Linked DNA regions of Homo sapiens. The protein of the gene in region 4 purifies or fractionates together with the protein of the main gene of each other region. This does not show direct contact. Each region holds a gene or a part of one and is shown on either strand. Other genes may lie near its edges. The genes, in order: ELAVL1, STAU2, LRPPRC and IGF2BP1.

What was found.
Region 1: the proteins of IGF2BP1 (region 4) and ELAVL1 purify together in Homo sapiens (co-immunoprecipitation; 3 studies listed by BioGRID and IntAct, with this or other methods). This does not show direct contact.
Region 2: the proteins of IGF2BP1 (region 4) and STAU2 purify together in Homo sapiens (co-immunoprecipitation; 2 studies listed by BioGRID and IntAct, with this or other methods). This does not show direct contact.
Region 3: the proteins of IGF2BP1 (region 4) and LRPPRC purify together in Homo sapiens (co-immunoprecipitation; 2 studies listed by BioGRID and IntAct, with this or other methods). This does not show direct contact.

Annotation. Positions count from the first base shown.
Region 1 is NC_000019.10:7,995,640-8,002,672, forward strand, and holds part of ELAVL1 (ELAV-like protein 1), read right to left. Parts: intron 6,566-7,033; exon of another isoform or gene 6,478-6,565; coding exon of another isoform or gene 6,413-6,477; intron 1-6,412. UniProt on the Homo sapiens protein: RNA-binding protein that binds to the 3'-UTR region of mRNAs and increases their stability.
Region 2 is NC_000008.11:73,743,816-73,750,852, forward strand, and holds the start of STAU2 (double-stranded RNA-binding protein Staufen homolog 2), read right to left. Parts: upstream 3,026-7,037; 5' UTR 2,968-3,025; intron 1-2,967. UniProt on the Homo sapiens protein: RNA-binding protein required for the microtubule-dependent transport of neuronal RNA from the cell body to the dendrite.
Region 3 is NC_000002.12:43,992,962-44,000,111, forward strand, and holds the start of LRPPRC (leucine-rich PPR motif-containing protein, mitochondrial precursor), read right to left. Parts: upstream 3,029-7,150; 5' UTR 2,987-3,028; coding exon 2,838-2,986; coding exon of another isoform or gene 2,813-2,837; intron 1-2,812. UniProt on the Homo sapiens protein: May play a role in RNA metabolism in both nuclei and mitochondria. In the nucleus binds to HNRPA1-associated poly(A) mRNAs and is part of nmRNP complexes at late stages of mRNA maturation which are possibly associated with nuclear mRNA export.
Region 4 is NC_000017.11:49,000,385-49,007,384, reverse strand, and holds part of IGF2BP1 (insulin-like growth factor 2 mRNA-binding protein 1), read right to left. Parts: exon of another isoform or gene 2,579-7,000; intron 1-2,578. UniProt on the Homo sapiens protein: RNA-binding factor that recruits target transcripts to cytoplasmic protein-RNA complexes (mRNPs). This transcript 'caging' into mRNPs allows mRNA transport and transient storage.

The DNA.
Region 1 (7,033 bases), on a different chromosome or scaffold from region 4:
ATTTACCATCTGGCTCTTCACACAAAAAAAATCTGCCGACCTCTGTTTTAAAATGTAAAAACATAAAATTTCTTGGAGAAAAATCTTTGTGGCATTGGGCTGGGGAAAGATTTCTCAGACACAACACCAAAAGCCCACTTCGTTAAAAAAAAAAAAAAATGGATAAACTGGATATCATCAAAATTTGAAACTTTTGCTCTGTGAAAGATACTGCTAGGAGAATTAAAATCCACCAACTGGAGTAAACATTTGCAAAAGGGACTTGTAGTCAGAACACTTTTTTTTTTTTTTGAGTCAAAGTCTCACTCCACTGCCCAGGCTGAAGTGCAATGCCATAATCATAGCTCACTGCAGCCACAAACTCTTGGGTTCAAGCAATCCTCCTGCCTCAGCCTTCTGGCTAATTTTTTATTTTTTGTCGAGATAGGGTCTCACTATGTTGCCCACGCTGGTCTTGAATTCCTGGTGTCAAGTGATCCTCCCATCTTGGCCTCTCAAAGTATTAGAATTATAGGCGTAAGCCACCTCACCCAACCCAGAACCCTTTTTTTTTTTTTTTTGAAATGGAGTCTTGCTCTGTCACCCAGGCTGGAGTGCAGTGGCATGATCTCCGCTCACTGCAAGCTCCACCTCCCGGGTTCATGCCATTCTCCTGCCTCAGCCTCCCAAGTAGCTGGGACTACAGGCGCCCGCCACCATGCCCAGCTAATTTTTTGTATTTTTAGTAGAGACGGGGTTTCACCGTGTTAGCCAGGATGGTCTCCATCTCCTGACCTCGTGATCTGCCCATCTGCCCACCTCGGCCTCCCAAAGTGCTGGGATTACAGGCGTGAGCCACCACGCCTGGCCCAGAACACTTTTTTTTAAGCTCTCAAAACAGAAGCAGGCTAGTGTGCTGGCTCATGCCTGGAATTCCAGCACTTTGGGAGGCCGAGGTGGGTGGATCACCTGAGGTCAGGAGTTTGAGACCAGTCCGGCCAACATGGTGAAACCCCATCTCTACAAAAATACAACAAAAAAAAAATTAGCAAGGCGTGGTGGTGGGCATCTGTAATCTCAGTTACTGGGGAGGCTGAGGCAGGAGAATCGCTTGAACCTGGGAGGCAGAGGTTGCAATGAGCCGAGATGGCGCCACTGTACTCCAAACTGGGCGATAGGGCCAGACTCCATCTCCAAAAACCAAAAACAACATAATGAGCAAACAACCTGGTTTCAAAAATGGCAAAAGATTTGAACAGATACTATACCAAAGAATATATATGGATGGCAGACAGGCACATGAAAAGATGCTCAACATCATTAGTCAAATTAAAACCACATCGAGACACCGCTACCCACTTATTAGAATGGCTAAAGCAAAATAAAACAAAAAACAACCAACAGCAACAAAACAGACAATGTCAAGTGCTGGCAGGGATGTGGAGAAGCCAGAATATTCATGCACTGCTGGTGGGAATGCAAAAATGTGAAATGTGACAGCCACTTTGGAAAACAGATTGGCAGTTTCTTATGGTGAAATATACACTTAGCATGGGATCCAGCAATCCTACTCCTAGTATTAAGGCAATAGAAAGGAAAATCTATATTCACACAAAAATCTGTATATAAATGTGCAGAGCGGCATTATTCATAATCATCCAAAACTACAACAACCCAAATATTCTTCAAGCCATTCATGGATAAACTGGGATACACCATACAACAGAATACCACCTGGCAATAAAAGGTATCACCAATTCATGCTACTTGTGTGAATCTCAAACACATCTTGCCACATCATTTCTGTGCCTTCCTGGAAAAGGCAAAACCATAGGGATGGATCTGTGGTCGCTGGGGTTAGGGAGTGAGGGGAAAAGTCGATTACACAGGGACAGGAGGAGGGAGTATTTCTGTTTGTGGGAGAGCGAACTTTCCAATCTTTATTATGGTGGTAATCAAACAACTTTATCCGTTTGTCAAAACTCAGAGAACTCTACTCGAAAAAATGAATTTTCCTACATGCAAATTTAAAAATAAATTGTCTGAGTGTGGCGACTCATGCCTTTAATCCCAGCGCTTTCAGAGGCCAAGGTGGGAGGACTGCTTAAGCCTGGAGTTCAAGACCAGCCTGGGCAGCACAGAGAGATGCCATCATTACAAAAAAAAAAAAAATTAAAAATTACCCAGGAATGGTGATGCACACCTGTATGCAATCCCAGCTAATCGGGGGGCTCAGCTGGGAGGATCACTAGAGCCTGGGAGGTCAATACTGCAGTTAGCTATGATTGTGCCACTGCAGTCCAGCGTGGGCGACAGAGTGAGATCCTGCCTCAAAAACAACAACAAAACCACAATAAAAATAAATTTTAAAAGGTTTAAAAAGAGAACTTCTGCTTTGCGGCCCTGTTCCTCCTGACACTCTGAGTCAAGGCTGAGCAGCCCCTGCAGGTCAAGTTCTTGGTCAACTAGTAACACGGGAGAAACCAACAACCTGCCCTGCAAAGCAGTTTCATGACGTTTCTGGGCCCCCACCCCACTCTCTGGAGGCCCTTCCCTTGACCTTCTCCAAATCTGCATCATCAATCCTGGGCCAAATCAGCTTCTATCCCACAAGCTCCAACCACAACTGGGCCTTGTCACCACTCAATTATCACTGACTCCCAAGTCGTAGCCACTTCTGTCTCTCGAGGTGCAAGGCCTGCACTGTCCTGCAATCAAGATGCTCACCCCTCTGGTATTCCCTGTCAGTGGTCACCACCCATTGAGGCTCGGCGGTCACACGATGATGCTCACGGTCAGGCATGCCATTAATAAGTGGCAGGGCCAGGCCTCAAGTTGTCATGACAATGCAACTGTCAAACTGGCAAGGCCCTTCACAATCGGACCCAGGTGGTTCTCCAGCCTCAGTCGCCACCCTCCCTTCCCGCTCACTCCAGCTTCTTGCCAATATGCTACAGGCCTCTGCTTTGGCTGTTCCCTCTGCAGGGCACTAGTGTCCTCTCCTTCACTTCCCAGCTCATTTTTTAAAATTAGTATTTTTTTTTAAAGAGATGGGGGTCTCTCTTTGTTGCCCAGGCTGGTCTTGAACTCCCAAGCTCAAGTGATCCTCCTACTTTGGCCTCCCAAAGTGCTGGAATTGCAGGTGTGAGCCACCATGCCTGGCCTCCCAGCTCACTTCTATTTTTACTTATTTTTCTTTTGAGAAAGGGTCTTGCTCTGCTGCCAAACTAGAGTGCAGTGGCATAATCACGGCTCACTGCAGCCTCAAACTGCCTCAGTTTCCCAAGTAGCTGGGACTACTGGTGTGTGCCACCATACCTGGCTGATTTTTAAATTTTTTTAGAGACAGGGGTCTCATTTTGTTGCCCATGCTGGCTTCAAGTCATCCTCCCACCTGGGCCTCCCAAAGTGCTGGGATTATAGGTGAGAGCCACTACACCAGGCTGGCTCATCTTTAAAAAGCTACCTTCCTGGCCTGGCGTGGTGGCTTATGCCTGTAATCCCAGCAATGTGGGAGGCCGAGGTAGGCGGATCACCTGAGGTCAGGAGTTTGAGACCAGCATGGCCAACATAGTGAAACCCTGTCTATACTGAAAATACAAAAATTAGCTGGGCGTGATGGTGCATGCCTGTAGTACCAGCTACTCAGGAGGCTGAGACAGCAGACTCACTTGAACGCGGGAGGCAGAGGTTGCAGTGAGTCAAAATCACGCCACTGCACTCCAGCCTGGGCAACAGAGTGAGACTGTCTCAAAAAAATAAAAAATAAAAGGCCACCTTCCCCCAGGACAACAGGTTACTTACTCTAGTTCTCAGTGCCTCCATGCCATTGCTGTAAACCTTTGTTACTGTCCCAACCACTCCTATCATTATTTGCCTTACACTCAATGACCAATGTCAGTGGTGAGAACCTTGAGGGCCCAGGTTATACCATTGCCATCTAAGAGTCCCCAGGCAAAGCCAGGGTGTGTCACACAGCAGTACAGGAGGCTGCTGGCTCTCAGACCAGGCTGGAGTGCAGAGGCATGATCACGGCTCACTGCAGCCCCGGCCTCCTAGGCTCAGGTGATCCTCCCACCTAAGCCTCCCAAGTACCTAGGACTGCAGGTGCGTGTCACTACGTAGTCCTACTAAGTCCTCTATGTAGTTCTGTCTAAGCTTTTTTATGTTTTGCAGAGAGGGGGGTCTTGCTTTGTCACCCAGGCTGGAGTGCAGTGGTGCGATCTTGGCTCACTGCAACCTCCGCCTCCTAGGTTCAAGTGATTCTCCGGCTTCAGCCTCCCGAGTAGCTGAGATTACAGGCACCTGCCACCACGCCCGGCTAATTTTTGTATTTTTAGTAGAGACAGGGTTTCACTACGTTGGCCAGGCTGCTCTGGCACTCCTGACCTCAGGTGATCCACCCGCCTTGGCCTCCCAAAGTGCTGGGATTACAAGCATGAGCCACCACGCTTGGCCGCTTTTTTATGTTTTGTAGAGGCGGGGGCGGGGGGGTGTCTCGCCATGTTGTTCAGGCTGGTCTTTAACTCCTGACGTCAAGTGATCCTCCTACCTCAGCCTCCCAAGCACTGGGCTTAGAGGTGAGAGTCACCGTCGGTGCCTGGCCTCTGGGAGAAGTCTTGTTTGGATGATCTCTGAAGGTTTTTGACTCCAATGCACTATTTTAAACAATCCTGGTTGTCTATGTGACATCAGTGATGTTGTTCACATCCGTCGATCATCTAGCGCATATCCAGGGGAGAGAGATGTGTGTGTCTTTATGTGTGACAGAAAAAGAGTGAAGCAGTGAGGCTGCTTTCCACCAGGCAAGCATGAGAATCACTTTCATTGCACCATGACGGAGCAGGTATTCTAAACCACTTGAGCCAGAGCAAAACTAGAACAGTCAAATCTATCTTCAGGCTCAATCTTGACACTTCACACATCATCTGACAGGGCTTGGACCCAATAATGTTTAAGGTCCTTTCCAGATGCAACATTCTGAGTCTTCCAGGTAAAAAAGGCTTAGGTCATTCAGGAAATGCTCTGCTGCCAGAAAAAACCCAAAGCACCACCTGACCCAGTTATAAATGCCATGCAAGGCAAGGTCTCAGGTGGACATGGCACCAGCTTCTTCCAAGCCCCTGCCCATGGCCCACAGAAGGGCAGGATGCCTGGCTGGAGCAGCTCCAGCTAAGTGACAATTCCCTTTCAGCCAGGCTGAGAAGCCCGGGGCAGGAGCAGGTCAGGTGTGGCTGGCCTGTGGCCCAGTCCAGGCACCCCACAGCCCTGCTAAGGGCTCTGGCTTCTTTCTGGCTGGTCAAGGCCAAAGGCCACTGCAGGGATCTCACACAGAAGTGCAAAGCAACAGGGCATGGCAGGAAAAAACCCTGAGCTCTGGAGCCTGGCAGGCCCGAGCTGGGCACTAAGTCTCCTGCTCATCAGCTGAACTACTGTGCAGAAGTCGCTCCCCTTCCCAGAGCTTCAGCTTCCTCCACTGGGGATGTCACCCCTTGCTCCACAGTGCCTGGTACAGTGAGTACCTGTCTCTAGTCCCACTTCATGAACAAAATCAAGGCGAATGTATGTCTCCCCAACCTCCCTGTCTGCAGCTACAAACACCTTCATCTCCTCTCCTCCTGTCCTTGCCCTCTCTTCAAACCGCCTCCGCCCCCTGAATTACTTCATTTGGTGGCATAGCCCCACCTGTCCCCCAAGCCACCTCTCTCTAGCCCTTGGACCTAATCAAGCACCATGTCCTGCCAGTTTGACATGTGAGATCTCTCACCGTCCTGCCACCTCTCTGCCACCATCCCTATTCAGATTCCTGTCACCTCCTGCTAGACCGACTCCTAAGTGGGATTGCAAACTCAGTGTCTCTAAACCCAGCTTCATCTTCTTCCTCCTAGTCACTCCCCTTCCTTGAGTCTGCCTGTTTCTGTTCATGGTGACATGAGTCTGGCCATCGAGCTGTTCAGGATTGTTCCCTCTCCTGTGATTCCTTCCCCTGACATAAACGTCTCACTCTTAAAAAAAATTTTTTTTTTTTTTAGAGATGGGATCTCGCTATGTTGCCCAGGCTGGTCTTGAACTCCTGGCCTTGAGCAATCTTCCACCTTGGCCTCCCAAGCTGTTGGGGTTACAGGTGTGAGCCACTACACCCAGCCACAGATGTCTGTTTGACAGGTACCTGGATCCAGTCGCTTCTGAGTAGTCTGCCAATCTTTCCTTTCCCTGGCACAGACAAAATATCAACCACGTGCCAGGCACAGAGCAAAGCATCAGGCATACAAAATATAGAAGCAGTCCCAGTCCTGACCCTCAAGCGGTTCAGCCATTACGGGGCCACCTCAGTACTGCAACAGCCTGTGACTGGTTTCTCCTTGTCTCCCCCCAGCCTCTCCACCAGGGTGAGCAGTGAACTAAAACTGCTCAGTAGCCACCCCTGGCCTACCTGCAGGGTAACAGCCAAGCCCTCTGCCCAGTGGACACCTGAGCACTCCTGCCACCACTACCCATCTCAGCCTTCTTGTCCCTAAAGAACCCACGTGGTTCTTTGAACACACGATGTTCTCTGAACACTGCGATGTTCCCACCTCCGGGCTTGGCTGTATCCTAAAAAGCCCCACCCTATTGTCTTTGCCTGGTTAGCTCCTCCCCACCGCTACTGCCTCCTCTCCTCCAGGAAGCATTCTGGGCTCTCCTGTGCCCACCCAGGTCCCTTTTCTGGGCTTCCACATCAGCCAGGGCATAATTCTCACAGCACTCATCAGAGTGGGCTGAGATGACCTACACACATCATGCACACTCTCCAGAGCCTAGCGGGGGCCCAGGACACAGCAGCGGAGCAGGGAGAGTCGTTCAGAGGAGGGAGCGAGCCTCACTTCCCTCCCACAGGCTGGCTTCCGTTGGTCTTCCCCTGACCCACAGCTCGGGTCGGCCGCACCGCCTCGCTACTGCCACCTAGGGGCGCCAGCCGGGCGCTGCGCTTCTCTCGCCATTCAGCCTTGAATTCGATTCAATAAACTGAATGGGATGGGAACACTAAGGAGGGAACAGTTGATTCCGGTGCGGG
Region 2 (7,037 bases), on a different chromosome or scaffold from region 4:
GGCTGGAGTGCAATGGCGCCATCTCAGCTCACTGCAACCTCTGCCTCCCGGGTTCAAGCGATTCTCCTGCCTCAGCCTCCCGAGTAGCTGGGATTACAGGCGCGCACCACCACACCCAGCTAATTTTTGTATTTTTAGTAGAGACGGGGTTTCACCATGTTGGCCAGGCTGGTCTCGAACTCCTGACCTCCTGATCCACCTGCCTCGGCCTCCCAAAGTGCTGGGATTACAGGCATGAGCCACCCCACCTGGCCAATTTTTTTTATTTTCTATGATCAGCTTGGTGAAAAATAAAAGATTTGCCTTCTTATAATTTTTCCTGGAACAAAGTCAAGGGCTTGACCTCTAGGACAACATAATGGCAAAGCTCCTATATAGAACTTGGGGAGGATTATTTAAAATCAAACGATGCACACATAAATAAAAATGATAATTATTACTGATTCTAGACATCTAGTATTTTGTGTACCTATAAGAGGCACAAATATATCTATATGTGAATAATCATACTGTGCGTGTCTCAAACTATGCAGTCTAAGAGAATTCAATTTTGCAGTATCTAGAGTTTTCCCTCTTTATTATGATCTGTACCTATAAATGATCAGATTCCCAGCACTGAACGTGCACAAAACAAGATAATAATAGGAATAAAGAGAAGGGTAGGCACAAAGGAAAAAAAAAAAAAAACCTACCATATCTTCTAGAACCTAAACAGGAAAACCGCTCTGCCTCGATTTCTGGATTGTTTGTATATTTAAAAGCTTGATGACTATCTTAGATTTTTTTTATATTCATACTATTTGTTGAAAAGCAAACCAAGCCACTCTTCCTAGCACTTCATTCCAGACAAGCCAAGTAAGCTAAAATGTAAAATTTGCATGGTTTTCCAAGCTCAAGTATTTAGGAGTTAAGGATCACAATGTATGTAACTTACCCTTAAATGGTCCAGGGGAAAAATATTTTGTGTGTGATAGAGAGCAAATAATAAATACATAAAATGTTAACAGGTGAATCTGAATAAAGGTTACAAAGATTTTCTTTGTATTATTCTTATTCTTGCCATTTGTCTGTAAGCTTGAAATTATTTCCAAATAAAGTTAAAATTTAAAAATTACACAGCATTTTATTTGAAATTAACAATACATACTTGGATTACACAGCAACATTCTTACAAATACAAAACACTGGTTTTTATGGGGAAAAATGCAGTAATTTGTGAGCAAGTATGTACCATATCCTACCAACTTATCATCACTTAGGAATAAATTTCAGACTAGCCTACCATATAATAAAATATGGCAATAGTGACTTGACTTGAAACCATAGCAGGAAAACACAAACACACCAGATAGTTTGGCATAACTGCTTCGCAAATTTAATACAGGCCTGCTGCAAAATGCAGCAATCTACAATTAAAGTGTTATGTGATATCTCTTGTTTGCAGTAAGATACAAACTGAACAATGAAAATCTGGCCATACTACAAAACAGAGATGGAGAGTAAGTCTTGGTTTTGGTAGTTTTATTAAATAAGATTTTTCCACCGCAGCTGAGTTCACAACAGTGTACTTGAATCATCTAAAGAAAGCAAGGACGGGGAAGAAATATCCTGGAGAAATGTTGAAATCTTTTCTCCTCCAAGGTTACTATCACCCTGCCTGTCCATCACAATTTTGATTTCAAGTATTCACGATGCTGGTCTGAAACACAGGATGCATCAGAAGCCAAGTAATGCTCAGCAAAAGTTCACCAAAATTGTGAAAGCAAACATTAAATAAAAAACGTTTTCAATTAACAGTAAAATATCTTTAAAGGATCATCTCTAGCCTTTCTTTCTGCAGGATCCACCCACTTTAAAATCCTTTGGTAAATTCCCAGGTCTACCCTAATTGAATGGTCCCTCTCTATCTGCTCAAGCAGTTCTTAACCCTTTGGAGTGGGGATGGGGGTAAGGGGACATCACAGCAAATATGGACCCTTACCAAAGAAAATTATTCACAAATGCAAAATTCTACACACATTTCCAAAGACTTCCAGAATCCCACGGCCATTACCCCCACCGCCTCCCTAAGAATCCCAGAGTGGCGTGCTTCTCAATGGCCTCTGCGGAGCACCCCCAGCCCCCAAGCCACAGCCCCCGGCTCGACCCCGAAGAGACTAGAGTTCCTGCTCTCACACAGCGGATTCCGTAACTGAGCTTTGTCTCCTCGCCCAACTCCCTTCACCCCGGCAAGGTCACTACCGCCAACTACCCCTTTAAGCCGAGCCATCACGGTAGGAGTTCGTAACAGCCACAGCAGAACTTGCCTGTCATAGGATATATTTTGTCCCCTCGGCCCCACCTACCCTCCCCATTTCGGCAAGTTACGTCTTTACCACTAGCCCATTCTACAGAAATAGCTGCCGCCGCCACCCTCCGGCGCGCCCCGGCCCCGCCGCTCCGCCTCCAGCGCCCCCAGGCCCATTTCCCGCAGACCCTCCCCGGGCCGCCCTCCCCTGCCCTACTCTAGGCGCTCCCTCTCCCTCGCAGCCACACCGTGGCTGCACTCGCCGTCCTCTCTTCCGGCCGCTACCACCCCGGCCCCCTAGAACCCCAGCCTCCCGCGCCCGCAGCCGCGTTCCTGTCTCCCCGACCTCCGCACCCCCACTTGGCCCGGCCTCCTCGCCTTCCTCCCGGCTCCTCCCCTCAGGACACCTGTGTCGTCCCACCCCCTCCACCACACACGCACCCCCCACCCCAATTCCTTCGCCTCCCTGTCCTCCCTCCCCCGCCGGTCTCCCCTCCCCGCTGCTGCCCCGAGAGCCCGATGTGGGAGGGAAGGCGCGGGGGAGGGGAGGCCGCGAAGGGGGCTGCTTTTCTCCGGGTTCCCCGTGCTGCGGAACTGCAGGGCTCCCCAGCGCCCTCTGCCTTCTTCGCCGGCGGCGCGGAAGTCGGGGTCTCCCGGACGCCCCCGATGAGGGTATTTACCTTCTTGCCGGGGACACTTTGCAGACGGCTCCAACATTGGCAAACACTACAGAGAACTGACCCCGCTCGGCCGCCGCCGGCTTCCACCCCTCGGGCTCCCCGCCCCCCGCCTCCGCCCGCCTCCGCCCGCCTCCCCGGCGCTCCCGCCGCGCCCTCCCGCGCTCGCGCCGCGCGCCCCCGCCTGCGCAGCCGCTCCCGCGCCCCAGCACGCCCGGCCGGCGCGCGCGCCCGGCACCGGCTCTACCTCCACTCCGCCTCCCGCCGGCCCGCGACCAAGCGCGGCCATTGTTCGCGACGCAGCTCCCGCCCCCTGGCGGCTGCCGGGCCCCAGCAGCTGCAGGCTCTGCGGGGCTAGCGGCGGCGAGCTGGGCCCCTGGGCGAGGGCCATTCCCGGGGGGCTTGGGCACGCGGGCGAGCGACTGCGCAAGGAGCGCGCCCGGTCCGCAGTCTCCTCGTCCCCGGCGCGACTCCCCGCCCCCTCGTCTGCCAAGGGTGGGCCTGGGGCAGCCCCTTCCACACCTGCAACTCGGCAACTTCCTTCCCCGCCCGACTGACCGTCTGCTCTTTCTGGTCCGCACCCTGTGCTCTGATTCCCCGCTCGTACCTTTCCCAGGCTCTCCGGCTGCCCCTCTGTGCTGTGCAGGGGACGCGCGACCATCCCGCGTCTGCTCCGGCCGCCGCTGTGCAACGCACGGTTTAGCGGATCTTGCACCTTTCTAGACGGGGGAGGGGGCGGGGAGGAGGTTGCTTCACCGTCTCGCCCAGCAAACACCAGGGATCCGTGATCACCTGCTCGCCAAGACCCGCGGCGTGGCCAGACCTCCTCTTCTACCGAAAATATTAGTCACATGAAAAAGAATCCTTGGAGCCAAAAATGAGAACCATTGAAAACAATGCCCTGAATCCTAGATTTATGAGGCAAGAGTGCCAGAAAACAGAAATTACGTCTTAATTCGTCCTGGTTTTGATGTGGATTACTTTTGTCTAGATAACTTCAACCCAGTTAAGCTCAATGAAACTGAACACTTCGTTTAGTAACCGGCACCAAAAATAATCTGACAAAGAAATTTCGAAATAGAACTATTAGTGTGTTTTCACAAACTTACTCGTTTGCAACGTTATTTCTAGGGTTTCTTCCCAGTGTCACTTCTCTGACTGAGAAATGTCTCCCAGGCCGGTGATTTCAGTCATCATCTAAAACCAATCTCATGTCTGCACCTGGGAAGGTAGTGTGTGTCCTGGTTAACCGCAAGGGCGCCAGAGTCAGATAACCAAGGCTGGATATCCGCTTGCTAACTGGTGAGGAGACCACGGGCATGTTACTTATCCTGTGCATCAAGAGGAGACTACATGTGATAGATAGTTCGTATTTAAATGTGACAATACATATGAAGCCCTTTAAATAGGACCGGGTATGTAGTACCTCTCCTGGTACAATGTTAGCTACAGCTATATTTTTCCTCCCAGAACTCTTTCCTATGCTCCTTTCCCCCCTTTTCACCTCTGCCAGTTCCCTCGGATTTAACATGTTGCATCCTCCCTAAATTTGCTGTGCTCCTTCTAGCGGCTTACGCACCCAGTCAGCATTCTAATACAGTCATGCCTTACCTAGCCACAAGGATATGTTCTGAGGAACGTGTCATTAAGCGATTTTTGTTGTTTTGCGCACATCATAGCGTGTTCTTACGCAAACCTAGGTAGTCTAGCCAACTACTTGCTTTGGCTATATGGTATATAGCTATTGCGCCTAGGCTGCAAACCTGTACAGTGTGTTACTGTACTAATACTGTAGGCAATTTTGCAACACAAGGGTATTTGTACCTAAACAGAAAACCTACAGTAAAAGAACTATATAATCTTTTTTTTTTTTGAGACGAAGTCTCGCTCTGTCACCCAGGCTGAAATGCAGTAGCACAATCTCAGCTCACTGCAACCTCCACCTCCCGAGTTCAAGCAATTTTCCTGCCTCAGCCTCCCTGGTAGCTGGGATTACAGGCACATGCCACCACGTCCAGCTAATTTTTGTATTTTTAGTAGAGACGGGGTTTGACCATGTTGGCCACGCTGGTCTCGAACTCTTGACCTCAAGTGATTCCCCGCCGGCCCCCCCCCCCCCCGCCCCTCCCCACCACCTCGGCCTCCCAAAGTGCTGGGATTGCAGGCGCCCGGCTTAAAGAACTGTATAATCTTATGGGACCACCGTTGTATATGCAGTCCACCTGTCCATCATTGACTGAAAGAAGTTGACCAGAAATTGTTGAATATTTTGAATGAATACCTTACTTTCCCACCAGCCATACCAAGGGTCAAGCTGCCTACCTCTGTGTCTTTCCATAGGCTATTCTCTCTCCCTTCAGGCTACCCTTCTCTCGCCTGGTGAACAAATAATCTTTCACGGCATTCAAAAATCACCTTCTTGGCCGGGTGTGGTGGCTCACACCTGTAACCTCAGCACTTCGGGAGGCCGAAGCGGGCAGACCACGAGGTCACGAGTTTGAGACCAGCCTGGCCAACATGGTGAAACTCCATCTCTACTAAAAATACAAAAATTAGCTGGGCGTGGTGGCACACACCTGTAATCCCAGCTACTTGGGAGGCTGAGGCAGGAGAATTGCTTGAACTCGGGAGGCAGAGGTTGCAGTGAGCTGAGTTCGAGCCACTGCACTCTAGCCTGGGCAGCAGAGCAAGACTCCATCTCAAGAAAAAAAAGAAAAAAAATCACCTCCTTGAGAGGCATTCTCTAACACTCCTCTGAGCAGGCGAGTGCTCTTCTCTTGTACCTCTCTTCTCTGATATTGTAGGTATGTTAGAATTTTTTTTTTTAGCCTGTCTGTATCTACCAAACATTGCATTGTTGAAGGGCAGGCTCTGTGTCTCATGCATATCTGTAGTCCCAGCATCCAACAGCAAGTAGGTGGACGGTAAATCCTTTGGTATAAATGGATGAGTTTATACTTTTGGAAAGAACTCTGGGGTGGTCAGATTTCATTCTCTTTGATTCAGATCCTTAAAGTTAATTGAAAACTTTATCCCTCCCGTAACTGTTCCTCATAACTGATTTTCAGTCATTGGTAAACCCCAAATAGAATGAATTTTTCTAAGTCACAATTATCAGAAAGGAAATTGTTTTTTAATTGAATCAGCACTTTCAGTTGCTCAAGGTATATAGTATCAGTACATGAAATCACCTGAGTGACATGGAAATCCACACATCACTCTACAATCATTTTAGGATTTACTTTAAAATAAAATATTTGTATAGGAGTTGAAAATAATGAATATTTAAAGAGCGGTGGGCCAGCCGGCTGTGGTGGCTCACGTCTATAATCCCAGCACTTTGGGAGGCTAGCGTATCACCTGAAGTCAGGAGTTCGAGACCAGCCTGGGCAAAATGGCAAAAACCCCATCTCTACTAAAATTAGAAAAACTACCTGGGCGTGGTGGTGCGTGCTTGTAGTCCCAGCTACTCAGGAGGCTGAGGTGGGAGGATCACTTGAGCCTGGGAGGCAGAGGTTGGAGTGAGCTGAGATCACACTACTGCACTCCAGCCAGGGCCACAAAGAAAGACCCTGTATCAAAAAATATAAATAAATAAAGAACAGTGGGCCTATTAATAGGCAGCTGATTAAAGCAAATGAGGCCAGGCGCAGTGGCTCATGCCTGTAATCCCAGCACTTTGAAAAGCCAAAGAGGGAGGATCTCTTGAAACCAGGGGTTTGAAACCAGCGTGGGCAGTAAAGTGAGACCCCACCTCCATTTAATTAAAAATAAATTTAAAATTAAATTTTTTTTTAAAAAGCGTCTGTTTTATCAACACATTTTTACCAGTCACCATTGCAGTGAAATGTTCAAGCATCAGGAAAAAGATAATGCTTTCAAATTCACCATTATCGGATTTGAGCAGTTTGAATGGGACAGATTCCAGAATCACAAACTCCAGTTTCCTTCTATGTCCTCTTCTTTCTTATATTATATCTTATATTATGATGCCCTTTTCTTGACATTTATTTTCCTGTAAAATTCATCTAGCCCCCAGCACCCACCATAGAAGTTACCCTCCTTTATTGATG
Region 3 (7,150 bases), on a different chromosome or scaffold from region 4:
AGAAAACACAGAAGGACCACGAGTAAAACTACCAAGAACATCAGCATTTAATAGGTGAACAGAAGCAAGAGGAATCAAGCAAATGAGACAAATCCTAAAGAGAAGAGAACCTAGAAAAATGGTGTCATCAATACCAAGAAAAGTGTCTCATGAAGGGGAAAATGGAAGACAGAGTAATATGCCAGGTCAAGGCCTAAAAAGTGGATTTGGTAATTAAAAGAGGTCCTTTCAAAAAGTTAAATAAACATACATCTTACACATACATAAGTCATTAGAAGGACAGCTATCAATGAATGGCTCTCTGGTTGACATAATTAAGGGTGATTTTTAGTTTATTGTTCCCACCACCCAGGTTTTGCAACTGTCCCTCGAGGCACCTTAAGGAATAATTTTTGCAACTGTTCTTCAAGGCACTTTTGAAATAATTTTTCAAAAATACAATAAAAAAATCAATAAGATAATAATGGCCTTTGACAGCGGTGTGACTGCAGTGGATAGGAAAGTGAATGAAAAGTGATGAAATTAAAGGGACAGAGAAGTATGGACAGGGAAGAGACTGAGAAACTTCTAGAGTAAACAGAGTTCCAGGAAAGGTTCTGTGTTTCACGTGGGCAAGATCTGGGCATGCTTACAGGATGTCGGGTAGGAGACTATATACAGTGCTCAGAGTCCAGGAAAAAGAGGGAACAATCACTTCTTTATTGCCTGCTGTCACCTGAACACACAGTGGTGAACAAGACAAAGTCCTGCTCTCATATAGCTTACCTTCTACTAAAGAAAAAAAAAAAAACCAGAGAAATAAGTAATGATATCAGACAAGTGAGGTGTGCCACGAATAAATCTACAGTGGGACCGGCATGTTTTGGATTGAGTGTTGAGGTAAGGCTTCCCTGAAGAGACATTTGAGATCTGAATGATAAGAAAGCAACTTTACAAAGATAAGGGGGAAAGGCCTTTACAGATAATGAAACTGAGGAACAGACAGGTTAGTAAGATGGCTGAGATTACGCAGTAAGTAAACAGAACCCAGGTCTGATGAACACCGAGACCACCCTTTCTACTAAACTATGTTCTCTCTTTATTCAGTTCTCCTCAAATGCAACAGTGAAGATAAAAGAAAATGTGGACCTTCCCCTGGCCTCACAGAAATGCTGAGGATTAGAAAAATAAGAGTAATGGGCACAACTTTCTCAAAAGAAACTCTGAAAGCCAAGAGATGTATATAGTTCTGTGCTCAGAGGCATGATTTCGGAAAGTTAACTGTTCAAGCCCAATAAGAAAATATAGGCAGACTCCAAATTACAAGTACGCTCCATTCCAAAGATTATAACTAAGTTGTTAAGAAATCATAAATTATTTCCTCCACGTAATTTTATGGCGAGATTAGGTGTTCAGGCTGGTCCATGAAGGTCCGCATAACCGTAGATATTATGACTCCTGTAGTAACCAACAAAGCACTTACTAGGCATCAGGCCCTATACTAAGTGCTTAATACAGATAATTCTGCAATATTCCTAACACTACTACTACTCCCACCTTATAGCTAAGGAAGCTGAGGCCTGGAGATGTTAAGTAACTTCTCTAATGGCATAATGCAGATAATTTGAGGATAAAATGCAGATAAATCTGGAGTAGGCTGCAGTCTGGGCCCAGCCTACTGCAGATCCCTGGCTCTCAGTCCTTACGCGAGCTCTCAAAGTACCTTAATTTACAAGCATCAGTCTTTCAAAATCATTTTTTCTCCAATGCTAAAAGCTCAGCACCTATCTCCCCTTCTCTGGTGGTCAGAATACTATTAATAACCAAATGAACACTTTCACCAACTTTTCTTTTCCCCTCCACTACAAAAGTCTATACCAAACCTATCTCTGATAAACCTCAAACCATGAGAGCATTTATTCGCCTATCTGACACCCACTTAGAGTTTAACTTGCCTTTGCATCCCCAGATTCCAACAGAGTGCCTTGCATGTGCTCATTCATTCAAAGACACTTACAGGACGGGAGCGGTGGCTCACACCTGTAATCCCAGCACTTTGGGAGGCCGAGGCAGGAGGATCGCTTGAAGTCAGGAGTTCGAGACTAGCGTGGCCAACATGGTGAAACCCAGTCTCTACTAAAAGTACAAAAGTTAGCCTGGCATGGTGGCGCACACCTGTAATCCCAGCTACTCGGGAGGCTGAGGCAGGAGAATCGCTTGAACCCGGGAAGCGGAAGTTGCAGTGAGCTGAGATCGCGCCACTGCACTCCAGCCCAACTCGCGCAACACCTTCTTAAATGCTGAAGGAAAACTCCATTCAAGAGAACGCAGGCAAAAGCCCAAAGTGATCATAATCCAGCGTCCAGCTTTAAGTCATCCGTGGCTCACCCAAACTCCCAACCCACTCCTCGCCGCCCCATCCCTCGCAAAAAGCTAAATTTCCAATATCTAAATGCTAGGTGGTTACTGATCACCAACGGTGACCGCACGTGGGACACCACCCAAGCTGGCCAAGTGTAAGGAAAAGACCACCACCCGACTTCCCAAAGCAGTCTTCAAAGCCCCCCTCATCTTCGTTGACCATGGGTACCCCGAGGGCAGTAAGGTCCAGGCTGAAGTGGCGGGGGCAGGATTCAAGCCGGAGGCAGGCCATGCCCACAGCCGTGACCTTCTGAAGGCGCTTAACCCTGTCACCCGAAAACCCCTGGTAGGGAGCGTGGTGCGGAGCCCGGGGAGGCTAGGTCCTGGGGCGGGGAGAAGGGTGGCGAGCACAGGCAGGACCCGGTCCCTGCCGGCACCCACGACCCCGGGGGACCCTGGCGCCGCAGCTTGCCTGGAGAAAGGGCCTGGGCACTCACCCGGCCACGGGCCCGGCGCGAGCGGCGGGCAGATAGGAGGCGGCATGCAGCCGGCCCGGGCCGCCAGGGAGGAGGCGCAGGGAGAGCGGGAGGCGCGGGGCCGCCCCGGCACGCAGCAACCAACGCGCGGATCTCAGCAGGGCTGCCATTGCTCGAACGTCCCCGCAGCGGGAAGCACGCTCCGCCAGAAGGACAGGAGGAGCATGTGACCGCAGGGTAGCCTGGCGCGGCAGAGACCAACTGCCGGGCGTGCCAAATGTGGGGGGAGCGACGGATTGTTTTAGGTTGGAAGATGGAAAACCGCACTTCTCCGAGGACAGAAGACCCAATGTAATATTTACATAAACGATGTTGCTTGATTCATTATCGAAGCTTTTCTTTTCCGTCTTCCGTCTCCGATCTGGGCATCGTGTTCATTCGCTGCACCCCTGCACTCCTCTGTTGGTAGAGCCGCAAGAGGTCAACTCCTCCCAGGTTGGCGCAGAGGCTTGTGGGAGGCCAACTAGTAAAAATACCGAGAACTCTCGAGGAGAGCCGACTATGAAGATCCCAGGACGTGGGAAGGTTTCCCCCGCCCCCGAGTGCAGATGTTGCTGCTAACGTTCAGCCCTGACGCCATGTCCAATAGGAACGGCCCTTCACTCTCAGAAACGCGGGCCGGAGAAACCGTGGAGGTCTTTTGCACCTTGCCGTTTGCCTCCCAGGTTCAACATGATAGGATGTGGATTATCAGGGCCTGGGAACAGTGTAAAGGAACGCGCAGGTCCCCACCCTAAGCGCGTACGCGGGGCCTCGCTTTAGAAAATAAATGAATTCTACCAAAAATCCTATAGTTTTAAAGCTGGAATTGAACTGACTCTCTTCCCCAACCCTCCACCCCTACCGCGCCTCTCCCTTCAGTAAATGCACATATACATGTGAGAAGTAAAAGAACAATGTAATTAAGAGTCTCCAGCCAAATATGGGGAGAAAACTGGCAAGTTAAACCCATCGCTGGCGAAGTGGCTCACGCCTGTAATCCCATCACTTTGGAAGGCCGAGGCGGGTGGATCACCTGAGGTCAGGAGTTGGAGACCAGCCTGGCCAACATGGTGAAACCCCATCTGTACTAAAAATACAAAAAATTAGCCGGGCGTGGTGGCGGGCGCCTGTAATCTCAGCTACTCGGGAGGCTGAGGCAGGAGAATTGCTTGAACCCGAGAGGTGGAGGTTGCAGTGAGCCAAGATGGCGCCATTGCACTCCAGCCTGGGTGACACAGCGAGACTCTGTCTAAAACAAAACAAAAAAACCACGTCGCTGCCTTCACAGGGCTTACAGACTGGATCGGTTCCCTGTGCACACGTGGGAAGCTGAGAACAGCCTTCCACTCCCTCTACACCTGCCTGTCCCCTACCTATCACGAGGCAAACGCGGCGGGTATTTCCTCTGGAAGCCCTCCCACGGTCATTTCCGAAGTGACTGTTTATCCCACTGGACTCCTTATCAGTTAATCCCACGAACTCCTTATCAGTAGGGACTGTGATCTCTTATTGTAGGCCATACACCTACCCAGTGCCAGACACACAGTAGGTCTCATTAAATATGTGTTAAATTAATGTCTATTTTGAGATGACCTAGCTCACCTCTCCTTTGAGAGATGAGGGAACGAAGACACCCGCTCCAAGCCCCCAAAAGAAACAAGGTGAATTGATTGACTCTGGGTTATATTACTGAGCACTGGGAATACAAGTTATTCACCTATTCAACACGTATTTATTGAATACATATCCAGTGCCATACACTATTTGAAATCCTAGGAATACAGCAGAGAACAAAACAAACCAACCCTAGATTCTAATTAAGCTCTTTAAAGTTTAATTTGGGAAGACAAAAAGAACTGTGATGCAAAATACGCCAGGGTAAAGGGATTGAGGGTGTCATGGGGGGAGTTGCTTTTTTTTTTTTTTTCTCAAGACAGGGTCTTGCTCTGTCACCCAGGCTGGAGAGCAATGGCACGATCTTGGCTCACTGCAGCCTCGACGTCTGGGCTCAAGCGATCCTCCCACCTCAGCCTCCTGAGTAGCCGGGATTACAGGCCCAAGCCCTGGCTAATTTTTGTATTTTTAGTAGATACGGGTTTTTGCCGTGTTGCCCAGGCTGGTCTCAAACTCATGGCCTCAAGCAATCTGCCTGCCTCGTCTCCCAAAGTGCTGGGATTACAGACATGAGCCACGACGCCCGGAGAGTTGATATTTTAAATAGGAAAAACGTTGAACAGAAACCTGAAGGAAGGAAAGGAGGAAGCCAGGAGAATTTTCTGGAAGGAGAAAAAAAAAAAGAGTGGTTAAGGCTTAGAGAACAGCAAACACCAAAACCCAGAGGCAATAATAGGTGTAGCCTATTCAGAGAACTTTAAGGAGGAGGACTGTGTGGATGAGAGAAAAGAGCAGGGGGTAGAGAGCAGGGGGTAGGAGTAGAGGAAGGAGCAGGGGGTGGAGAGGGGCCTGGAGGTCAGAGAGGTAGTTGGAGGCCATATCAAACAGGGTGTTGTAGGTGGCCGTGAAGACTGACTTTTATTTAGACTGAAGACTTTTACTTAGAATGAGATGAGAAACCATTGGATAGTTTGGTGTGTTGCTTTTAAAGAGATGGAGTCTTGCTGTGTTGCCCAGGCTAGAGTGCAGTGTCTATTCACAGGTGCAATTATGACACACTACAGCCTTGAACTCCTGGGCTCAAGCAATCCTCCTACCCTGGCCTCCCAAGGAAGTGGGACTACAGGTGCATGCCACCACACCCTTTTGCTTTTTTTTTTTTTTTTTAAGTGCAGTGGCACAATCTAGGCTCACAGCAACCTCTGCCTCCCCGGGTCCACGCGATTCTCATGCCTTAGCCTCCCAAGTAGCTAAGATTACACGCATGAACCACCACACCCAGTTAATTTTGTATTTTTAGTAGAGATGGGGTTTCACCATTTTGGCTAAGCTGGTCTCTAACTCCTGGCCTCAAGTGATTTACCCACCTCAGCCTCCCTAAGTGCCGGGATTATAGGCGTGAGCCACGGCACCCAGCCACCCATTTGCATTTTGAAAGGGTCACTCTATCTGCTGTTTGGAAAGGAGATTTTAGGGGAATGGGGATAAATAAAAATAGACCAAAGAGAAGGCTAATCCAGAATAGAGATGCTAGTGGCTTGGATTAGAGGGCAGCAGGTGAAATGATGAGAAAGGGTCAGGTTCTTACTCTATTTAAATAGTAGAACCAAGGGGATTTACTGATGGATTGGCTGTGGATTGTAAGTCAAGAACGGCTCCAAAGGTTTTGGCCTAAACAACTAGAAAGATGGAGATGACTCTGATTTAAAAGGAGAAAACAAAGAGAAGCAGATTTAAAAAGTGAAATCAAAAATGATCTTCTAGAATATTAAGCTTGTGCCTGCTAGACATCCAAGCGTCAAATTTGAATAGGGGTTGGCTATATGACATACAAGTCAGTTCAGGGGAAAAGTCAGAGCTAAAGATACATTTGGGAATCTGCAGCTTGTACCTAATATTTGAAGCCACAGAAATAGATGAAAGCATCTAGGAAGAAAATGCAGATAGACAAGAGAGGGAGTCCAAGGACTGAGGCTTGTGTCATTTCAATCTTTAGAGGATGTATAGATGAAAATCTAGCAAAGGAAACTGAGAAAGAAGAGCCAGAGAGGCAGGAGAACTGAGCCCAGTGAGGTCACAAATACCTGAATGAAAGAAGTCCTTCCAGGAAGGAATTATCAATCACATACAATGCTACTGTTAGTTCCAATACAATGAGCATGCAACATTGACCATAGAATTTGTTGTTTGTTTGTTTGTTGAGAATGAGTCTTACTCTGTCGACCAGGCTGGAGTGCAGTGGCGTGATCTCAGCTCACTGCAACTTACGCCTCCTAGGTTCAAGCAATTCTCCTGCCTCAGCCTCCCAAGTAGCCGGAACTACAAACACGCACCACTATGCCTGGCTAATTTTTGTATTTTTAGCAGAGACAGGGTTTCACCATGTTGGCCAGTCTGGTCTCGAACTCCCGACCTCAGGTGATCTGCCCGCCTTGGCCTCCCAAATTGCTGGGATTACAGGCATGAGCCACCGCGCCCAGCCAATTATTGCTAATTTTCTAAGGCATGATAATGGCTTTGTGGTTACGTAAGAAAAAATATGTTTAGAGATGCATGTTGGCACTGGAATATGTAGAAGTAAATTAACATGATGTCTGGAATTGTCTTTTTTCTTTTTTTTTTTTTTTTTAATGAGGCGAAGTCTTGCTCTGTTGCCCAAGCTGGAGTGCAGTGGCGCC
Region 4 (7,000 bases):
AGAAGTGGGCATAAAGGTGGGTTCTGAGTGCATCTCTGGGAACTGGTTCCAGACCAGGGAACCAGGGGGAGAATGTGAGGACACTACAGAAGCAGAAGAAGTAGGGAACAATGTGTGCAGTCACCCCCTGGGTATCTAGGGATCCCCAGTTCCTGAATGCCTACTTTGTTAGCTTACCAAGAGCAGGACATGAAAATGAACATACCCATCCCAGCAGATGGGGGAGGTCACTCTCATTTCTTCCTTCCTCAGACCCCCAGGAGGATTCTTACAGTCCCCTTCATCCTGAATTCTTACAACACCTACCTTATATGCAGAGTTAGTTCCCCTCTCACCAATGTCCCTACTCTACATGTACACCTTTGACAGTAGCCGTAAAGTGTGAAATTTCAGCTAGGAACCTGGACCAAGTTCAGGGCATAAACGATAACAGAATAAATGGCCTGTTTCCCCTAAAGAACAATTAATAGCATTATCCACCATGCTCGCCTCATCTCTCCAAGCCTCTGTCTCAGAGAATGTACTGGGGGAATCTATAATCTAGGGGCTCTGTGGGGTTGCCCTGGTGAGCTTCATCTCTCTCCACTAAAAGGTGGCTTTTCCTTTCAACATACAGGTAGAGTTACCAAAGCACCCTACGCACAGATCCCCTTCAACATGCCTAGCCATCACTGTTCCTAGTGCCTTAGATATATAGCCCAAGCTGACACACACACAGTTCAAAGACAACCTCTCATGGACACATTTTCAGGCATCTGTACACTTGATCAGTTCTAATACTCATGGAGCTAACCACAGCTATATGGGGCAGGGTAGGATACAACTGTAAAGCTTCAAAGGAGGACAAACAATGGCTAGGGCAGGAGGGACAGAAGTCAATATCTACAACAAAATAATAACAATAAGAGCTATTGTGTACTACTATTAGGACCACTTCTTTACAGTTACGGAAATTGAGCTCAAGCTTTTAAACACTGAATTCTCCTGGGAGGAAGACCTTTCCTCCAGACCCCAGTAAAGGATGAGTGAGAGACCTAGGGTAGGTCATTAAGACTCTGACCTAACAGCACTTCTTCCCTCCTGGAGCCTTAAGAATTTTGAATGATTCCTTTCCTCCTTGTTCCTCTTTGCCAAAGAGGTCAGACCACACAAACAACCATTACACACATATTTCTGAATTCTCTGATTTCTCCCCTTAAAGATCCTAACTATATCCAATCAACTAAACTAAACTATCCAATCAAATTTCACTCAGACTTAACATTTTCCATTTCAAGTGGCCAAAACATCCAAATGAGTGATTGAGTTGGTTTTTGTTTTTGTTTGAGACACAGTCTCGCTGTTACCCAAGCTGGAGTGCAGTGGTGCGATCTCGGCTCACTGCAACCTCCACCTCTCAGATTTAAGCAATTCTCTGGCCTCAGCCTCCCGAGTAGCTGGGACTACAGGCATGCACCACCACACCTGGCTAATTTTTGTATTTTTAGTACAGGCAGGGTTTCACCATGTCGGCCAAGCTGGTCTTGAACTCCTGGCCTCATGTAATCTGCCCTATTCGGCCTCCAGAAGTGCTAGGATTGCAGATGTGAGCCACCGTGCCTGTCCTGAATGAGTGATTGAGTTTTTAACCAAAATTAACTCAAAATGAAAAAAAAAAAATTTGAAGTTCTCCTTAACCTTCTTTTCATAAGGAAATGTAGAGAGGATTGACTAGAATCCACTAACCAGACATGGTAGAAAGGGAAAGAGAAAATGTAGAGCTTCCCCTCTTCTCCTGCCTCCTCTATTATGGGATTTTTCTCCACAACCCTCCTCTAAACTATAAGCAAAATTTCCAGCCATCCCATATCAGACACCATCCCTTACATGCCTTCCAGCCACCAAAATGCCACTTGTCTAATAACCAGACTTGTCCTAAGGGGTCTTGAAAATATCTGCACAATCCACTCAAAACTTCTCTTAATCATCGAGCTGTTTGCTCTCTATTTCAGTCAAAAGCAGTTTGCTTACGACCAGCCATGCTCCTGGGAACCTGGATTTCCCAAAATGCAAAAGGACTGCATTTCTGATGGTGTTTGTTCTGCACACAGTTACATTTCAGTGTGTTGCAATCAGGTTTTTTCCAACTGTATTAAAAGTATGAGGTCCAAACCTACTTTTCTGTGACTTACCTGTAATCAACATATATTTTGTCAGTCAACTATGGTTAGAGCAAAAGTTTGTTCCAGCCTGTTGTATTATTGCAAACCTACTGTGCTGCAAGGTAGTAAGCAGGTCTTACAAAGCAGGCTCTGCAATAAATTTTAATAGTAGGATGACCCCCCTTCTATCCAGTAATAAGTACATAGTCTCCTCTGATCAAAATCTGAAGGGCCATCCAAGTTCTCCTAGTAGAATGAAGTCACTACCTGGGGACTACGTAGCTTCCTGCTGGCATTGCCTCCTTGCCCTTGCGATGGTGTGTGTCAGGTGGTATCTTACAGGATCATTTTTAACCAAACTATCGGTAACCAAATGGGCATACACTTTCTTGAGTACAGGTTTGAGAGACCTTTCCTTCTGCTTTTTGTTTTGACAGGCATTTAAAAAGGTATAGGGGAGGAGAGGAAAGGTGGAAATGGATGGGGTGCAGAAGTTTTACACTAACATGGAGTCGAAGACTGGCTGAGACCCTGGACAACTGGAAGGCCTGTTGTCTCTCTTTTACAAGATAAACAAAATCCATGGATAGAACCTCTGACTACTATTACTGCCTCTGTTATTGTTTCGGTCAGCCTTCAGGACCTGTGGACAGACACAAACAGCTCATTTTGTAAAGATTGCAGGTTACTTAAATTGACACTTAACTCTTTAAGGTTCTATTTCTCAGGCCAAGACCCCAGCTACTGGGAGAGAGGAACAGCTACTTGCACTTCCATTTTCTCTCCAACTGTCTCATCCTATTTTCCCTTTACCTACTCTTCCTCTCTTCTTGCCTCTTTTCACTTCACATTTACCCACTGGCTTTTTGCCTTAGAATGGAGAGCTCCTGAGGCAGCCCAGGTGCTGGAAAGGGTCTGCAGCCCGCAGCCCGCAGCCGGTGAGGGGGAACCCTCTCGTGGGGTATCTGCTGCGAGGTTTGCGATCTGGGGTTCCCAGGACTAAGGCGCACCACAAGCGGCCTGGGATCTCCTGGGGTCTCAGGGATCTGAGAGGGGAAGTCCTCCTCGGAGACCCAGGCCAGCGGATGTTCTCTGTCAGGGGCTTGTTAAGAGAAGGCAGGCGGGCGGCCCCACCTCAGAGCGAGACGAGATTGCCGGGCTGGGACTGGCGCGGGGGCGGGCGGGGAAGGTTAGGGCCGCCGGGCCGGGGCGAGCGCTCCAGGAAGAGCCTGCAGCGCCGCCGCCACTTTCTCTCTCTCTACTCTCTCTCTTTTTTGAAAGGGGAAGGGAAGGCCGGCAACTCCAAAAGCAAATATAGCCTTGCCCTGAGCTGAGTCTACCACCCGTCTCCGACCCCTCTCCCGTGGGTAACACTGTGAGACTCCAGCCGCTCCCCTTTAAAAGGGAAGCGGGAAATCCACCCAACCCCGTATCTCCCCTCCCTCCCTCTCTCCCTCCCCCCTCCCCGTCTGGAATTTCCAAGCCGGGACTAACTCGTCTGATTTCTCCAGTCTCCCCCTGCTGCTTTTTTCCTCCCCTTTTCTCTCCCTAACACTCCCATCCCAAATTCTAAGCTGCACTTTCTGGAAAACATTAGCCACATTTCAAGAATCTTTTAAGAGGATAGGGAACGAACCACACTTATTTTAAATTCTAACAGCTGGGAAAATGTCCGTTCTTCAAATGCCTTTGGTTCATAAACTTATTCTAACAACCCCATCACCACCACTACCACCCCACACACAAAAATCAACAGATCTAACCACTAAATAACTCTTCACAAAACCTTTAAACTTCAACAAATAGCACTTGCTGTTCCCCACTTCTCACTCAACTAAACCAGATCTGAATTTTAAAATGTTTTAAAATTGTATACTCAGTAGACTACCTCAATAGTATCTTTGTCAACTGGCTGCTACACATTAAAGTATAGTATAAATACACTCTTAAAAAGTAAGCCTTAAAAGTACCCACACACATAGATTAAAATGATACATATTAAGGTAATTTTAAAAGATTAGAAGCTCAGAACCTTTGAATCAAGGTTCTTCCAATTGCTAATGTCATGTATTTAATCTCTGAAACATAATTATGTTTTTTTCCACCAAAAGCTGTGCCATTAAAACTTTACCTTTTCAACAATTAACAATACTTTGAATAAATTAGTGATGGGACTTGCAGTTCTTCCCCCTTTTTACTAAAAAGTTCTCCATCTGAGAAACCATTATGGTAAAATTTCATCTTTTTAATTTGGGTCAGAAAATAAGGGGTTCTAGAAACCTACAATTCTTCTAAGGGACAGTCAGTTGCCACTGCCCTTACAAAACTCTCATCTTGAAATACTGACCACCCAAATGAGAACAGTTAAGGATTTCTACCAGCAGTGAAGGAAACTAATTTATGAATTTGCAAAGTTTAATTTTTAGGTGGAAATTAAAATAGGGAAAGAATGTACCCCAGTTTCCACCTTTCCTCCAAACAGTGCACAAAAACTTAACATTCAACCATTTTTTTCACTTATGTAAAGCAAAAAAAAAAAAAAAATTCTAACCTAATATTAATAAGAAAACCTTTTTAAAAGAGTAATCAATTGTTTCTACTTTAAACTTCCATGTTGAATAGTAGTCACATGTTATCTTTTACCTCGTATGAGTTAAAAACTTTCTTTTTGACTTGGATACTAATTCATAATTACAACCATTAAAGTAAAAGTGCCTGAAAACCCTCCCGCTCTAGTAGTTTTCATTCCCTTTTTAACCCCTCTTCATTCATTTTCAGCCCCAAAGTACAAGGTAGGTTTTCTTTTTTCCTTAAGTGCAAATCCATTTCTGAAGACAATTTTTAGGTTGTTTTGAAAACATTTAGTGATCCAAGTGATTTCTTCAGAGCCTCAACAAATCATTGTTAAAATATATTTAAAATATTTTTTGCCATTTATAAGACATCCCTTCACAGATTTTTAAAGCTGTTAACTTCAAAAAATTAAACTGTAAAATTTGGACACTTTCTTTTGGGAGTTCTCAATTTTATGAACGATTTATAAAACTAATTTTGTTTAATAGGTACTTAAGGGAGTTAGCCCACCTCATTTTTAGTCAACATAGAGGAAAAGGACCATTAATCTGCCTAAAGAAATCACCAAACTTAGAATTCTTTAATGTGAACACATTTCACCTTTAAAAAAAATGAGTCAGTGCATCTCTTTCATTTTTTTCTTAATTAACAGTAACACCTTTTATTTTGATGACACCAGTTGACAGTGAATATGCTATCTTTAGGTCACATTCCTCTAGAAAAAGGCACACCACAGTGGCAAGTGTAACAAAGGTTTAATTCCCTTAAAAAGCAAATCATGTCTCAAAGTAATCAAGTCACACTAAAATGGTACCCCCTTTACCTCAACTACTCCTAAGTCTCTCAGAATAAAACATATACAAGCCCTTTCCACAACTGTTTTTAAATGCATTTGGTTTTTCTCTTTTGTCTCAGTATCTGGCAGTGAACATATACAAATTCTCAACAAAAAAGCACAAATTGTTAACCAAATTCCAACACTAAGGGGGTTTGAGATGGTGATCTCTAAGAAATTAGTATCACCTCATTTTAAAAATTCAAGCTAACTGCTGTTTTCAGTTGAAATGCATAGTGTTCGGCCTCTTGAGTTCTTAAAAAGGTACAAATTATATGTATCAAATAAATTCAAACTAAGAACAAAATACATTAAGAGGTATTGCTACAGCATATCTTTTGTTTGATTTCCCCCTCTTAAAAAACAAAACAAAACAACCAGGAACATTTAGTTGTTGGGTTTTTATGAATTATTTTAGAAATTGAAATCATAGTTCATTTGGAACTGAATGCCTCAAGAAGAGTTCATAAGGAAAATACAAGAGTATATATACACAAAATATTATTTGTATAGTTGTTCATTTTGCTTAGAATATATTAGTCATAATTAACTAGTTCCTGTTCTATACATCCATGAGATGGAAAGTCAGTAACAAACCTAACTGACGAAATACTTTTCAGACACAGACTAAAGACACATACCACAACATACTTCCTCAAAGACACAAAATGATAGAGCAAACTGACTTAATGAAAACAAACTTTCTTTTTTAAATCTTGAGACTTCAAAAATTGATTCATTCTAGAAAAATGAAGTGCCTTCTCACCACCAACCAAAATAAAAAGCAAAGAAAACACAACTGACTCAATGTTTGGGCTAAAAAAATTATTTCAGGAAGGGGAGAACACATAAAAGATCTAATTTAATATGGGTGTGGACAGATTTTTTTTTTTTACCCAGTCTTCTCACAAACCCCCTCTCCATTCCAACTCAAAAAAGAGCCCTCAGTAATGCATTTTGGAGGGAAAAAGGGCCTAGAAATGACTTAAAAGCAAGCAGATGGCTTGGGGAAAAAGATTCATAAATACAGGGCACCATGAAAATTAAAATATAAATGTTTTGAGTTCCATTTCATCACGTTTTGCTATTTCTCTTGCTTTTCACTTTATTCCCTAAAATTTAAACCATCCTCAAGAGCAAAAGAAAAAATCCACATATTTTAGAATTCCACTTATTCTGGATATTTTTCATCAACACTCAGCTTTCAGTTCAAATATCCATATCCTTTTCAATAAACCTGCTGGTGTCAGTGTATGTTCCTTAGACACATCTCCAGAAAATGTTTCAAAATAACAAATAAGACTTCTTTTCTTCCTTCCCATTTTATTGCCTCTTTACTCCTAACTCTAATTGCCTTTCCAATAACACGGTATTTCAAACATGTGAAGTTAAATCGCAAGCTCTATAAACATAGTAACAAGCCATATTGATCTATAGACACAATAGTTCC